2 separate regions of the Homo sapiens genome follow, and region 2 is linked to region 1. Evidence: fine-mapped expression QTL. A gene starts in region 1. The other region holds a variant in brackets. All regions are shown on one strand. Distances are from middle to middle.

Region 1 (2,909 bases):
AAGCTGATGGCCGCGTTGAGCTTGCCCAGCGTGGTCTTGGGGTAGATGTCGCCGTAGCCGACGGTGGTCATGGTGATGATGGCCCACCAGAAGGACTGGGGGATGCTCTTAAACAGGGTCTCTGGATGGCTCTGCTCCATGGTGTAGCCCAGGGCAGAGAAGACGAAGATACCCACTGCCAGGTACATGAGCAGCAGCCCCAGTTCCTTGAAGCTGCGCTTGAGGGCATAGGTGAGGGTCTGCAGGCCCGAGGAGTGGCGGGCCAGCTTGAAGATGCGCGCGATGCGCATGATCCGCAGCGCCTGCACGGCCTGCTGCACGTTGGTCAGCTCCATCATGCGGGCACCCAGGTGCGTGAGCGTGAGGCTCACGTAGAAGGGGAGGATGGCCAGCACGTCCACAATGTTCATGAAGGACAGCGCGAAGTGCAGCTTGTTGGGTGACGAGAAGAGGCGCAGCAGGTACTCCAGGGTGAACCAGCCAATGCACGCCGTCTCCACGTTCTCCAGCGTCGGGTGCTCCACGCGGTTGCCCTCGGCGTCCAGCACCTGCAGCTCGGGGATGGTGCCCATGCACATGACCACGGACGAGACGAGGATGAGCAGGAAGGAGAGCACGGCCACCACCCGCGCCGGGCACGACGACTCGGGCTTCTCCAGGAACTTCCAGACGCACTTCTGGCAGCGGCGCCAGCGGCCCTCGGCTGCGTCCACGCCCAGGTCGTCCAGGATGAGCTGCACGCGGCGCGCGATCTCCTCCAGCTCCTCGCGCTTCTCGCTCAGGTGGCTCTTGCAACAGTCGTCCAGGAACTTGAGGTCCACCTTCCAGAAGTCCATCTCGTTCTTGAAGCAGATGGGGCAGATGCCCTTCTTCATGTGGACCTCCCCGAAATAGTACACCTCGATGACACACTTGAAGGCGTCCGGGTCCCTGTCAAAGTAGAACTCGCGCTTGCCGGGGTCGTAGTCGTCGCACAGGGAGAAGATGGTGTCGTAGCCCCCAGCCAAGCAGTTGATGAGCTCCGCCAGCCGGGTCTCAGGGTACTGACTGAGGAGGTCCCCGTACAGCACCTGCCGCACGCCCCCCACGTTGACGACTATCTCTATGTCGTCGCTGGCAGCGGAGCTCTGGCTGCCCGGCTCCGGGAGGCTGCGCTCCCCGGACCCGTCCATCCTCCCCGCGCGCGCCCTCGCAGCCTCCGCCCCGCGCCCCCTGCAGCCGCCGCCGCCGCTGCCGCTGGGGGTCCGGCGGGTGCCACCCGTGCGCTGATCTCGGGGAGAGCCTGGCCGGCGCCCGCCTGCGGGGAAGGGCGGTCACAGCGGGCAGCAGCCTGCGGGGGCGCGCCGCGGGGGAGGCATGCACCCGGCGGCGGGGCTCGGGGCTGGCATCCGGGCGCCCGGGCGAGCCCGCGGGGGCTTTGGCGGCCGCCGGCCTCGCCCGGGGCACTCACCCCGGCTGGCTGGCGGCGCGCTCCGCCGCTTCAGCTCGGCCTCCTGCGGGAGCGGGGTCTCCTCGTGGGCGGCTGGCACCGTCCTCCGCCCCGGGGCGCGCAGGCAGCGGCGGCAGGTCCCGGAGCTGGCGGACCCACGCCGTCCGCGAGGTGCTCGAGGTGTGCAGAGAGCGAACTTGGGCTGGCTTTGCCCGAGCCTTTTCTAAACACAATAGGAATTCCAGCCTGACGTCAGGAGCTTTTCAAACTGTACCCTCTTCTGGTGAAATTCTGCAAGGCACGCGCGGCAGCTGCAGGGGACGGATTAACCCTTGGGCAGACGGGCACAGCTGCCGCGCCCGCCGCCACCACCGCGCACCGCCGGCCCCTCCTCGGGCGCAGCGGGTCACCGAGGGGTTGCGACCTGGCTTGAAGCGGCAGGCATTCTCTCTCACTGCTGTTTGGAGAGGATTAGTGGGGAGAGAATGCTGCCGCCTGTTGCTGGGCAGGAAAATGTGCTCCAGGAAGCCCCTTAGAAGGTGACTCCTATGTCTGGGTCCCTCCTCCGGCCTTAGACCCGCGCCGGCTTTTCCTGGTGGGAGGAAAATCCTGCCTGATCCTTGAAGCGTTTCCTGCCCCATCCCCCCGACCCAGCAATGCCCTGCTGTGTTGGTGGCACTGTCTCACCTTCCCCGCAACGCTGTACAAGGAGGACATCTAGTCCAGCCTCCTGTAGAAGGGAAGGGACTTGCCCAAGGTCACGCGGCGGAATGAGAGCAGAGCTCAGCTTGACCGCCTCCTGATCCCGAGCTTTCCGGCTGTCCCAGCTGACCGACGCCTGCTGTTCAGCAGATTTCAATTCTGCCTTGAAGTCCCTGCCGTCTGGCACCTCCTATCTCTCTGCAGTCCCACACCAAGGCCACTAGCTTCCAGACCCCTAGGGTCCAGTGGCTCCTGCTTCCCCGTTCCTCACTCCTTGACCAAGGCCTGTCTCTTCCTGACCAGTGTCCCACACCCTCCTCTCTTCCAGCCTTTGCAGCCACAGCTGTCCTTCTGTCCTCACTCACCTGAACCACTACAGCAGCTTCCTAACAGTGTCTCTCTCCTCCGGTTCACCACTATCATCAATACTGCAAATTACTGATATCATCTATGGCCTCGAGATCGTGTTAAAAATATTCTGGAGGGAAGAATGAATAGGCAGAGCAGAGGATTTTTAGGGCAGTGAAACGTACCATAATGGCGGATATGTGTCGTTATGCAATGGTCAAAATCCATAGAATGTTCACCACCAGGAGCGAATGTTAATGCAAACTCGGTGCTGGGCGATGATGACGTGTCCATGTGGGGTGGTCCACCATGACAAGTGTCCCACCCTGTGTGAGATGTTGATGCGCAGGGGAGAGCTGTGGAGACAGGGGGCATGTGGGAATTCTCTGTACTTTCTGTTGAATTGTGCTCTAAAATATAAAGTCTATTT
Region 2 (2,909 bases), 51 kb before region 1:
AGCCGGTCATGGGGTGTCACCGAGCAAGTCACCACTGTGAGCAACTGAAGCTTCATCCCTCTAGGACTCTGGGAACTCCTCCAGAACGCACAGCAGAGGTCCCCACCCAGCGGGGAGGGAGCTGGGTCGCAAAACCCATTTCCCCTGGCACTTTGGTGTTTAGTCCTGACCTGAACTGCAACAGAAGTTTGTTGATTATATTTCTTCTTTTCCAGCATCTGCCACAGCTGGAAGAGACTTTTTTTATATGAGCAAAAATGCAGAAAGAATGAGTTAATGACGAATTGTGTGTGTTTCATCTGAATGGACCGAGTTGCTACAACCCAGCAGAGCGGGGAGTGGATGGTCTCTCAGCCTCTGCGAGGTCTCAGGGAGTCCTGCTAAAAAAACTCCCTGTTGCGCTTGGTCAGAATAAATCACATGTTCTTCGTGTTTGCCAGGAACTTAGTGTAAACTGGACTATAATCCGTCTGTTTTATTCCTTGTTGGAAGTGCTGGAAATCTTCAAAGTACAAAATGCACTGTGTTAGGTTTAAGAAGAAAGGGAATCACCTCTTAGTGTCTGGTGTCCTGTTCATTTCCATGACTTTCCCTCCTCTGGGAAGTGCCCTGTGAATGGCCCCTTGCTGGTGAGTTTCTCAATGAGTCCCTGGCTGCGTGGGGCAAATGTCTCCCTTTCATTCCAATGAGGAAGAAGTCTCAGAATTATGCTAATTGGCTAAGGTTTAATGGATATATTTAAAATAGTCCCAAATATCCAGTGTGCCAGGGCAGCGTTGCCCCAAGGGAAGTATCTGGGTGGGAAATAATGATTGCCTAAATTAAAAACCCAGAAGAGGAACTAGCACCTATTTAGGGGGTTAGAAGAAGGAAGGCAGAAATGGTAAAACGTCTGTATCTGTGTTCTTTTTAGGGTGAGAGAGTGGACCATTGTGAGGGTCTGGATGGGGGAATAAGGGAGATGGAACCTCATGGGGGAATCCAAAACCCAGAGATGCAAGTCAGCAACGAAAAGACAAATAACCCAATTCAAAAACAGGCAAAGAACTTTAATGCATGTTTTCCCAAAGAAGACACAAATGGCCAATAAGCACGTGAATAGATGCTCAACATCATTAGTCATTAGGAAATGTAAACCAAAACCACGACAAGATACCACTGCACACCCACTAGGAGAGCTAAAATCAAAACGACAGAAGATGGGTGTTGGCAAGGATGTGGGGAATTGGAACTCTCATACAGTGCTGGTGGGAATGTAACGCGTGCGGCTGCTGGGGAAAACAGCCTGGCAGCTCCTCACAAAGTTGAACACAGCTCTCTTTTTTCTCTCTTCTTTTCTCTCTTGG[G/A]CCTTGGCGCCTACTTGGATCCCTGCCAAGCGCATCTTCCTCTTTCCTGTTCTAAAGCTTTATAAATAAACTTCCATTCCTGTTCTGGAAAGAAAAAGTTGAACACAGAGCTACCATATGACCCAGCAATTCCACTCCTCGGTGAATTTCCAAGAGATGAAAAGATATGTCCAAGCACACACTTGTATCTGTGCGTTCACAGCAGCATTATTCACAATAGCCAAAAAAATAGAAACAAGGCAAATGTTCATGGACTGATGGAAGGTTAAACAATATGTGGTTTATCCATGCCATGGAATCTTATTCAGCTATGAAAAGGAATGGATATTGATACATGCTGCAACTCGCATGGACCCCGAACACACCATGCTAAGTGAAAGAAGCCAGGCACAAAAGCTCGCATGTTGTGTAATTCCACTTATATAAAATGTCCAGAATAGGTCGATCCATAGAACAGGAAGGAGATTCATGGTTGTCGGGGTGTGGGGGTAGGGGAGGATGGGGAGTGACTGCTTCACGGACGGTAGTTTCTTTATGGGTTGATGAAAATATTCCAGAATCAGATATTGATCATGGTGGCACAACATCTATGACTGCACTGAAACGCACTGAAGTGTACACTTTAAAATGGTTCAAATGGTACATTTTGTTATGTGAATTTTGCCTCAGTAATAATTTTTGAAAACATAATTTTAATAGGGGTATAGCCATAAATCATAAATTGTGAAGCACAGCTAATGAAAATGTGGAGTCCTTTGTTCAAAAACTGTAAAGAGTTTCAGGATGGCAATGGCAGAGTCTTAAGCCAAGCGAGGTGGCCTATGGGGCTACACAGGTCGCACCCCAGAGGCAGGACCAGCAGTGGTGCTGGGACCTCGCTCCCAGCGTCTACAGCAGGGGCCGGGATCCCCTGCTCCTCAGTGACGCTGCAGTGCAGGTCTGCCCTTCTGTGGTCCCCAGGCTGCTGCCATCACAATTTCCGCTTTTGCTTGTCCCAACTCCACCCCGTGCCTTGACTCTGCTTGGTTTCTCTCCGCTTCCCACCAAGGCTGTGATTCCCTCTCTCGATGGGGGTTCCACGGTCACATTCTGGAGGGAGGGAACCTGCATGCAGCCTGCTTCGTGGTTGGAGGAGGTGTGGGGGGGCAGTTTCCCAGCAGCTGTGTCATAGATTGCTGGGACCTTGGGAGCTCTTCGTCAGCTGTGGCTGTGAGGGGAATCGTGTAGTCCGAAGCCTGGGGCTCTTTTGGAAAGGCTGGGCGAGATCCCTTTGCGTGGCCGGGGTTCACAGGAAGACGACAGGGAAGGTCCTGGGAATGATGGCCTTGAGCGTCCCTTCCCCATTGCCCATCCAACCTCTTCAGGTGACAGCTTCTTGATATTGGACAAGTCATTTAACTTCTCTGACCCTCCATGACCTCTTTAGTAAACGGGAATAAAACCTTAGCTGTTCACGCACGGGGGCTGAATCAGTTGATGAAACCAAATAAGCCCTAGGTGAGCTCCTGCTGTGTTCGAAGTGGGTGCTGGGCCCTGGGAGGCGGAGGGGAGGCGGCTGGGTGG

Evidence for each region. PIP is the estimated chance that this variant, and not a neighbour inherited with it, causes the effect.
Region 2: its variant is the best candidate, but not a certain one, in a credible set for the expression of KCNF1 in cerebellum (GTEx, PIP 0.86).

The regions. Positions count from the first base shown.
Region 1 is chr2:10,910,690-10,913,598 of GRCh38, reverse strand. It overlaps KCNF1 (potassium voltage-gated channel modifier subfamily F member 1), which reads right to left and starts at 1,665. Exons shown (of 1, transcript NM_002236.5): 1 at 1-1,665. The coding sequence starts at 1,172.
Region 2 is chr2:10,961,721-10,964,629 of GRCh38, reverse strand. No RefSeq gene overlaps it. Among named protein-coding and RNA genes, the nearest start is that of KCNF1, 51 kb to the right of the region's middle. The variant G/A (reference allele first, on the strand shown) is at 1,347.